Linked DNA regions of Homo sapiens: region 1 is linked to region 2. The links come from fine-mapping of genetic effects on plasma protein levels. Region 2 holds a variant in brackets. A gene starts in the other region. All regions are shown on their forward strands.

What was found. PIP is the chance, under the fine-mapping model, that this variant and not a neighbour inherited with it causes the effect. The UK Biobank Pharma Proteomics Project read protein levels with antibody pairs (Olink). The fine-mapping took linkage between variants from a reference panel, not from the people measured, so its PIPs are less certain.
Region 1: IL15 starts here. The variant in region 2 is fine-mapped to the plasma level of the IL15 protein (UK Biobank, PIP 0.96).

The regions. Positions count from the first base shown.
Region 1 is chr4:141,633,554-141,638,943 of GRCh38, forward strand. IL15 (interleukin 15) reads left to right here and starts at 3,030. Exons shown (of 8, transcript NM_000585.5): 1 at 3,030-3,195. RefSeq lists an enhancer at 2,943-3,032.
Region 2 is chr8:127,198,441-127,203,830 of GRCh38, forward strand. No RefSeq gene overlaps it. Among named protein-coding and RNA genes, the nearest start is that of CASC19, 3.5 kb to the left of the region's middle. The variant T/C (reference allele first, on the strand shown) is at 3,122.

The DNA of each region.
Region 1 (5,390 bases), not on the chromosome of region 2:
CTTAGGCAAGCTGTATAATTCTTTGGGCCTTGGTTTTCCCATTTGTAAAATGGAGATAATAATAGTTTATATCTCATAGCTTTGCTGTGAGGATTTAATAAGTTAACATTTGTGTTTAGCACAGCACTGGAGAAATAGCAGATTGGAGGAACTACAGAAGTCCTAACTAATACTGTTGTGGTTCTGAAAAAGCAGCAACTTGAGGAGCTCTTGAAAACCTAAATAGTATTTAAGGCCAAGAGTATCTGTCTATTGTCAGGATCACCAGAAAAAAATGTGAGAAGCAACTTCGAGGTAATGCTGCATTTCAGCATGCTTTACCCCGAATGGAAATGTAGAGAACCCAGGCAGGCCATGTTTTCCAAAGAGCAGGGGATCAACTTGTTCTTGATGGGAGGTTTAAATCTTAGTAAAACCATAAATAAGGCCACAGTCATGGACTTTGAACACTAAATCAGATGAAATAACTTGTAACTTCTTCCATGTAATCACAAAAGCTAGAAAATAAATTATTAGTAATTTATTTTAAAGATGATTGCCCAATTGACATTGTTTTTGAAAAAAGATATTAAAAATTTATTAAACTATAATTTTATTGTTAATTATTTGAATTCAGGAAGATTATTATGGTCACTTCTATGAGATTTAGTTAATCTCCACTTCTTTCTACCCTGTAATTTTATTAGTTATCTTAAGACAGTTTCAAATTATTTCATCAATCTTCATCTTTGCTTTTAATTTATGCAGCAGAATTTACTTGTTCATTGGTATGAGTAATTTTCAATATTTTGCCAAACAGCCTGTGGCAACTGAAAACACAAGTTGCATACATTAGACTTTTCTTTTTGAGTGCAATGCAACAAAAACAAATTATGTTGCAAACCCAACTTCATTGAACTGCAGGCACTCATAACTAATTAAAAATACTTTTAAAACATCTGTATTTATGAAAACAAATTTGACCAACATATTTGGGAGGCAAATAGTAGAGCAAAGCATATCTTATGACTATAATAATTTTTAGTTGTACTTTACTGTTATTTATGTTTTTTATCTCCCTACTCTGACAAAATGCTTTATATATCATTTAGTCCATCTTGTTCTAGAACCTACTATAGTTGAAACCCAATAAACAGTTGTAGACCAATTTTCTTACTGTTATATACTCAGATTATGCCTTAAGTTCACCCTACAAGTAAACTTTCCGTCAATTTCATAGTGTTGTGAAAACTCTCTAGTAGCTCAGAACGTTCTTGGTGGTCTCAATATATTAAAAGTATGCAGTCAGATACTGATGGCCCTGAGTCCTGCAGACAGCTAACAAAGCTGAAGCCCACAGGCTAGTGAGCACCAGCTGAGAGCACTTTCTATAGAGTTTGTGGGCAGTCCAAGAGAGACAGGATCTGAGATGTGATGATATGTCCTCTGGCAGCAGCAATATCTGATATTGAGCTCTGCTAGGTGGTGCTGAGCGTGGACACCTGCTTCCTTCACCGGCTGCAGAGAACACAGTATCCATTAAAGGAGCTGAAAGAGGTGCTAGAGGAGTTTACATGGCAGGAGTCCAGGAAGCTCTGCAACAGTCCAAAATGAGGTTGGGACACATGATACACTTGTTCATCCCTATTCTCTATCTTCACACATATGCATATCAGTCCTTCCGTGGCTGCTATATTCTTGTGGTGAGATCCAAACCAGCTGCAGTCTTGCTCTCCCAGTGCATGCTCATTCTGCAAATCAGAGCTTCAATGTATTGCTATGAAAAATTCTGACTGGTCTTGAAATCCATTGACACCATCACAAGAAAATTCAACATGACATCGTCATGAACAGAAATGGATGATGGCTTCATATTCTTAAATATAATTTCCAACTATGGTGAAATTTTGAATGGTTGTAAAAACTGTTTTTGCATTTTTATACCTCACTTATTTTGTTAATGGAGACTATCTAGAGTTTGATGTAATTCTCATCAAAAAGTCCATCAGTAATTATTTCAAATATAAAACTGATATCAAAAAATTGAGTTAATGAAAATAAACTCAAATTTTTCATAAAAATATGAAATTATATTATACGGAACTTTATGTACATGGAAAGTGAATAATTTCTATTATTTTTCTATTTGATATTTATCATATTTATGTAATTAAAAACATAATTAAATTTTAAACTAAATTAAACTGCGCTCCAGGAAGACATCATTTTCTCTGAACCATGACTCTGAAAATTTGGAAAGCACCGTACAAGAGGGATTTTCAGTGATTCACAAGAGTGCAAGATTCTGCAAAGTACTTTCAAAACTAAGCGTGAGATCTTTGCTACTGCCTTTATGGCATGCAAATCACTCAGCCTCAACTCAGTTCCTTCCTCCAATGTAAAAATACTACAAGAACAACATCTCACGCTTCCATCAAATGGGACCATGTGTGATATTTTACACTGGACTACACAATAGGCTGGAAAAGTGATCCGCAGAGAGGCTCATTGCTCTAAGTTCACTCCCTGTACCAACTGTCTTGCACAAAGCTGCCACCCGGGTGTCTTCTTCCAACATTTCCCCTAGTTGGACTTCAAAGTTTCCTTCTTGCAGCCTGTGCGGGGACCAAGAGGCCGGTCTAGAGTAGCCGCCCAGCATCCAGATCCGACATCCTTTTCCCTTTCCTCAGGAAGACTTGGATGCGCGCCAGCCCAGCCCGGGTCTCCAGGTTCAGCTGCGGAAGCTTCCCACATGGTGCCCGTCGCTTGGGATGCGGCTATCCTTGTGCCTTCTCTGCAGGTGTCCCGGCAGGTAGAGGAGGAGACCGGTGGCTGGTGTTCCTGCAGGGCGGGGCTGGGGCTCCTCGATGTCCTTGCGCTTGCCCTGCAAGTTCTGCGCCCCAGGCCCCGGCAGGGACGGAAACAGGCCGGGAAGCAGTGACACCTGGGGCAGTCAGTCATCCAGGAGCCGCCGCCACCCGCCCCACCCCCAGTCTCCGCGGGAGGTGTTTGTCTTCGCCTATGCTCCCGGCTCTTTCTCTTTCACTTTTCTTTTCGCCAGGGGTTGGGACTCCGGGTGGCAGGCGCCCGGGGGAATCCCAGCTGACTCGCTCACTGCCTTCGAAGTCCGGCGCCCCCCGGGAGGGAACTGGGTGGCCGCACCCTCCCGGCTGCGGTGGCTGTCGCCCCCCACCCTGCAGCCAGGACTCGATGGAGGTACAGAGCTCGGCTTCTTTGCCTTGGGAGGGGAGTGGTGGTGGTTGAAAGGGCGATGGAATTTTCCCCGAAAGCCTACGCCCAGGGCCCCTCCCAGCTCCAGCGTTACCCTCCGGTCTATCCTACTGGCCGAGCTGCCCCGCCTTCTCATGGGGAAAACTTAGCCGCAACTTCAATTTTTGGTTTTTCCTTTAATGACACTTCTGAGGCTCTCCTAGCCATCCTCCCGCTTCCGGAGGAGCGCAGATCGCAGGTCCCTTTGCCCCTGGCGTGCGACTCCCTACTGCGCTGCGCTCTTACGGCGTTCCAGGCTGCTGGCTAGCGCAAGGCGGGCCGGGCACCCCGCGCTCCGCTGGGAGGGTGAGGGACGCGCGTCTGGCGGCCCCAGCCAAGCTGCGGGTTTCTGAGAAGACGCTGTCCCGCAGCCCTGAGGGCTGAGTTCTGCACCCAGTCAAGCTCAGGAAGGCCAAGAAAAGGTACCGCAGCTCCCCACTTCCTAACTGCTCCCGTCCCAAACTCATTGTGGGCCGGTGCAGATGTCTGTGCGTGCGCGTCTATCCCTACCTTTGCAAAATCAAATTATCGCCCTCTTCTTTGCTTGCACACGTCTTCTGGGAGAGAAATTTGCAGGAATGGTCAGTGCTTGGCAGTCAGGCCTGGGTCTGTATTGGTTCCAACTCTGCGCCAGCCAGTTATCTCTTAGAGAAGCGATAGTGTATCTAGAATGTCGAAGGAACTTGGAAAAAATACGAGCGAATTTCACTGAAATAAAATCATTATTCAAGGTGGCTTTTAAATGAAAATCCAGCCAATTTTTTCAAGTGTTATTAAGACCGCATGTAGCAAGGGTATATAGTTCATTTGACTTTATGTAATTCCATGCATTAAAAACTATGTTGACTTCAAAGTATGTCTAAACCAAACTAATTCTTAAATGATGCTTACAACAGATTCTTAAATAGGATGAGTCAGCAATTTCAAAACTGGAAGTAAAGTGGTGGTCACCAGCTAGTTTCCATTATATATTTTTAAACTACTATCTAATATTATGATACTGGTGGTGGCCAACTAAGTGGACGTCATCCTTATCTTGTCAGTGTGGTGAAAGAGGCCATATTAGCTAGGCTGAATTTTTGCTCAGGTATTACAGAATAAACTGGTGATTATGCATCCTGCCATGTAGAGGTTATAAGGTGAACCATTCTACTGAAAGCATCAAGATACAATACACTTTTGGAAGGCCGAGGCGAGAGGATAGCTTGAGACCAGGAGTTCCAGTTTATAGTGAGCTATATGATCTGCCACTGCACTCCAGCCTGTCAAAAAATAAATAAATGAATAAAAAAGATATAATACAGGTTAAATTTTTAAACTCCTGTTGTTTTCGTGTGAAGTAATGTGGCCAACAGAGCAAGGAAATACATGGGAAGGAACATAAAGACATATAAAGAGAAGAACTGAAAATACAGCAAAAGCCATTTAGATTTAAAAAGTGAAGAAAAAGCTAGTTTTGCTTAAAGTTAACAAGTATCATAGAGATCTTAAGGTTTGTTATGATTGTCTTAGTTTCGGGTCCTTATTCGTGTAAAATTCTCACAGAATTTTAGTCAATCAGAAAAGTCTCTCCTGCAGTATCATCTGCTTTGCAACAGTGACAGAGAAGGGTCAGTTGACCATTGGTCTGGAACTTCTGATAGGCAGGGTGTTCCCATACTTTTGGTTTCACTGTTCCTTGCTGATTTGGAGTGGCAACTCCAGAACCTGATTGGAAGCTATAGTTCTGGTTGGAATTTTCCTGCAGACTACTGGTGATTAAAATGATGCTCTTTTGTTTTAATCCATGAAATTAATGTAGCCAATGTCAACAGCTATATTGCAAGGCACAATGTTTATAAATTTCCTTGGGGGATGGAGAAAACAGTGGTTTAAGGTTTATCGAAATAGATTTTGGAAGTGGAAGGTTTTAAAGCCTACGGGATACTCCATCTCAGATTTGCTGCCTCTGATGAATTTCAGGACAGCTAGAAGAGCAGCCCTGAAATGCTGGGTACATGTGGATTTTTCTCAGGAAAATATCCGTAACTTTGATCAGCTTTTTAAATGGGTCTCTGACCCAAAAGAGTTTTAAATCTTTTGAAAATATAGACTACTGTCCTTTTCCCCTCATCTCTCCTGGAGTTTAATGTTGAGTTCTG
Region 2 (5,390 bases):
GATCAGCCAGTTCAAAGCCCTGGGGGGTGGGGGCTGTGCTTGGCATATTTGAGGAGTGGTAAGGAGGCCAGTGTGGCTGGAACAGAATGATCAAAGAAAAAGGTGGTAGTAAATGAGGTCAGATAAACAGTAAGAGACAAGGGATTTTTAGGTCATCTAGAATTTAGATTTTTTCCTGAGAGGGCAGAGGAGCCACGAGAAAGCTCTGAGATGAGGATGAGATGATCTAATTCAGGTTTTAACTGGATAGTTCAGAGCAAGAGTGGGGGCAGGGAACCAGTGAGGAGACTGTGGCAATAATCACGAAAAGTGGTGCAGCGGCTTGGACCAGGGAGTTAGCAGTGGAAGCAGAGAGAAGTGACAACACTCTGCATATGGGAAAGGGTGGGCAGGAGAGAACAGTGCCCAAGATGATCCAGTATTTTGGCCTGAGAAGCTGGGGAAAAAGAAACAACAACAACAACATCAGTGGAAGGGGTTTCAGGGAGTCCAGGTGTTCTGGTTGCAGCTTTGTTTTGCCTTAAAAATATTTGAGTACGTAACTAGTAATGGGATTGCTGGGTTGAATGGTAATTCCGTTTTTAGTCCTTTGAGAAATTGCCACAGTGCTTTCCTTAGCAAACTAAGGCAGGAACAGAAAACCAAATGCCACATGTTCTCACTTGTAAGTGGGAGCTAAATGATAAGAACTCATGAACACATAGAGGGGAACAAGAGATACTGAGGCCTACCTGAGGGTGGAGGTTGGGAGGAGGGAGAGGATCAGGAAAAATAACTAATGAGCACTAGGCTTAATACCTGGGTGATGAAAGTATCTGTATAACAAAGTCCTGTGACGTGAGTTTCCCTAGGTAACAAACTTGCACATGTGCCCCTGAACTTAAAATAAAACTATATACATATATATACATATTAGAAAGAATTATACTTTTGAGTTTTAATAGCACATTTTCTGTAAGATTTTGCAATTTAAACTTCACTATATTTTATATAAACAATTAAGAGTTGAGTTGACCTTGATATTACATATTACAGATATTTTATTAACATCTATTAATTTTTAATTATTTGATTTTTTCAAAATTTCAAATAATATACCTATTTTTCAGATTTCAGGCAGGCCATTGAAAAGCTCCTAGTTCTAATTACTGTTCCTGTAATGCTTTATGAATATAACAGTCCGGCCTTTCCTCTTAGAGTTTGCAGTCTAAGGTAGAGAAATATAATAAAAGAAAATGCATGAATTTTTAACTAATATGGTGTGGGTTCTAAAGCTCAGATAAATTATTTCGTTTAGTTCTCACAACAACCCTCTGATGCAGGCACTATTATTTCCCCCATTTTAATAATGAGGAAACTGAAGCACAGAGAGCTTGGTTGACTTGCCCAATATTACCACACTCTGTGTGGCTAAGCTGGGATTTGAACCAAGAAAACTCTCTTCCCATAGGTCGTTGAAAAATTATGAAAGGTTAAGCCACCTCTCTGCTTGTGTTGCCTATTTCCACCATGTGAGTCCAATGTGTGGTGACAGAGAAGGGTAGATGTTTGGCATCTGTGAATTCTGTGGATTGTGTGTCATGATTCTTTATTTCTGTCCTCTGTATCCTGAATTGCCACTACCCTGAGCAGGTGATAAGAGTAAAATTCCATTACATTGGTCTTGAGGGGATGGGCAAACACTTTGGACTCTCTTGATATTCTAGTTATTAAATATTGCTCAGCGTAAGTTAGACAATGAATGAGACTTGTTGATGTTTTCATTTCAATTTGTCTTATAATGATCTGTGCTCAACATGTAAAACCAATAGATGTAACACCTTTGGAATATTTCTGAGTAAACATGGGGCACCAACTCAAAGAGCAAGAGGTAAAAATGCCTAGTGTGGATCAAAATCTACTCTATGACAGGGAATCTCATGGGCTCTGAAGGATTCTGGTCACATAGGGAGTAAATAGCAGACTCTCAATTCAGAGTCAGATGTGAGTTCACACGCAATGTTTTGGGACTTCATCCTGTCTTTTCCCTGCTCTGGGAGTCATAAGAATTAAGTTCTAATCCTAATTCTGTTGTTATCTACCTGAGTGACACTAATTAGATATATAACTTCTCTGAGGCTCGACATTTACATCTACAAATAAAGAAGGCTAGAATACTAAAGCCTCTTCTATTTCTTCCAATTATTGATTGTATCGGCTCTTACTCTATAAATGGTTTCTTCTATTTTAGGGAAATTAATTATTTTGTTCTTATGGTGTTGCTGGACCTGTTGCTTTTCATTGCTGTAATTACTTCTCTTTGTTGAAGACCTTTGCCAGACGAAATGTGATGGGTGTATAAGGCTCTGGCATTTTGCCCAGGTCTGTAGCACATAGAATTCCACTAATGGGTCTGCTGGGCATCTGAGACCACAGAGCCATTTGTCATAACATGACAATTCCAGTTGGGCAGGGATAAATGTTAGCTTTAACGATTTTGGACCAGAGTTTGTCTAGAGAGAGAGCAGAGTACAAAGCCAAAAGCATCATCTTTAGAGCTAAGCAGGCATGAGTTCAAATCCCAACCCAGCCACTTACTAGATATGTAGCCACAGCCACCGCCAAGTCTCAATTTAAATGTCACTTTCTCAAACAGGCCTCCTAGGGTCTCCCACGTTGGCTTAGTCCAGAATACTGGTTTATCCTTACGGTATAAAATTTATTCCATCATTATGCACCAGTATTTAATAAATGCTGAGGAATGTGGAACAAATATTTGTTAAATAAAAAGTGACTTAATCCTTCTCTGTCTCAGTCCTCACTTCAGTGAAGTGGGCAAAAGGGTAGAACAAGTTTCCTGTGCAAAAAGAATCAGGTCAAAGTGCCCTAGAAATAGCAAACACTGTCACAACCCTAGATAGCATGATTACAATCTGAAATAAACTAGTTCAAAAAGCAAATCTCAGACTCAAGTGGGGCTTTTTCTAGTTTAGAACTTGGAGTTAGAAGAAGAAAGAAGGGGGCTAAAGTGTGCTGCGTGTCTAGATGTGCCAGGCACTGTACGTAATAGAATGTCACACATTTAATATTTGTCTAAAAGTGTGAAAGTGTGAATTTCCATAAGAGGGACACAGGTTCTTGG[T/C]AAAACCAAGGTTTGCTCTAACTTTTCACACACTTTGGCAGACGGTTTTGCCTTTTTCTCCTAAGTTGGAACTTTTGAGGCCATTACTGCCAGGAGGGAAAAGTTAGTGATGCTTATCTATGTTCAGAACTAGAAAATGGCCCCTTCTGGTCCCCAGTTTGGCCCCATTGTTATTCACATGCTGCCTATAAAAAGACAAAACCTCCAGAAGGTGGAAAAGATGAATATGCAGAATGCTACACATAGATACTCATGTAGGTGAGATGGCGAACACAGCAGATTTAGGTCTACCAATAAGATACTACCCCATTTGGGATGACACACCTTCCTTAGAAGTGACAGTGGCAGAACATAGACAAAGGGACTAATTAAAAGTATGTGGGTTCTGCAGATTGCATCTGGAGTAAGAGTCCAGTGATCTAAATTGTAGGCCAAGGCCTCTTGCTTGCTAACATCCTCTGTCTGCCTCAGTTTTCTTACCTGCAAAATGGATCACTGAACATCACATTTCTCTTTATTAATTTATTCATTCACTGAAGAAGCAAGCTGTCAAAAAGCAACTGCTACATATGTCAAGAAAGATGCCAGATGCTAAAATAAAATACAAAAATTTGATTACTACAAATTGCTACCATCGAGGAGTCATAGTCTAATGAAAGAGAAAAACATGAGAGTGAATAATGAAGTCAGCAAAAAGTTCAAAAGAAAAATAAATAAAAGGCATAGATATTAAAAATGAAGAAGTAAAACTATCTTATTCAGAAAGGATATGATTATGTACGGAGAAAATCCCAAAGAATCTACAACATCAGACTCATCAGTGAATCTAGCAAGATCACTGGATACAGTTTATATATAAATGTTATCAATAATTGTATTTCTGTGCCTGACAACAAAAAATTGAAGACAACTTTTAAAACAACAATGTTTATAATGACACCGAAAAATATCAAATTAGAAGTTCATGTAAATTGTAGTTTCCAAGAGCTCCCGCTGGAAATTGGAAGCCATTGTTGAAATAAATTAAAGAAGATTTAAGCAAATGGAGAGACTTACCATGGTTATGGTTCGAAAGACTCTACATTGCTAAGATGCAATTTACTCCAAAATTGTCTACAGATTCAATACAATTTCAGTTAAAGTTTCTGAAACTTTCATTTGTTGTTGTTGTTTTTGGAATAGACAAGCTGATTCTGAAGTTTATATACAAATGCAAAGGACGTAAAACAGCTAAAGAAAATTTGCAGAAGAAAGAAACTAAAAGAATTACACTGTCAGATTTCGAGACCTACTACAAAGCTACGATTATTAACACAGTGCATATTGGTACAAGAATAGGCAAATAGACTAAAGAAACAGAAGACAGAGTCCAGAAACTGAACTACACATACACGATCATCTGATTTATTACAAAGGTGCCAAGGCAATTGAGTAGGAAGAGAACGATGTTCTACGTAAATGGCAATATTGAGTATCTGTATGGTAAAAAATAAATCTTGGCTATATGTCATATAATATGGACAAATTAATTACAAATGTAGTATACACCAAATGTGAAAGGTAAAACAAAATAACATGTTAAAAAAAGTATAGTATCTTACCTTGGGATAGCAGATATTTCTTAAACAGGACACAAGAAGTGAAAAGGCAAGCCACAGCCTGGAATAATAATTTTATCATAATATATGTATATGTTTCTATCTGAGAAAGTACTCATACCCAGAATACATTAAGAACTCTTACCAATTAATAACAAAAATGTGTTATTAATATATACATATTATGTATACATTATATGTATCATATGTATATGGACCATGCACATGATATGTATGTATCATATGTATATGGACCATGCACATGATATGTATGTATCATATGTATATGGACCATGCACATGATATGTATGTATCATATGTATATGGACCATGCACATGATATGTATGTATCATGTGTATATGGACCATGCACATGATATGTATGTATCATGTGTATATGGACCATGCACATGATATGTATGTATCATGTGTATATGGACCATGCACATGATATGTATGTATCATGTGTATATGGACCATGCACATGATATGTATGTATCATGTGTATATGGACCATGCACATGATATGTATGTATCATGTGTATATGGACCATGCACATGATATGTATGTATCATGTGTATATGGACCATGCACATGATATGTATGTATCATGTGTATATGGACCATGCACATGATATGTATGTATCATGTGTATATGGACCATGCACAT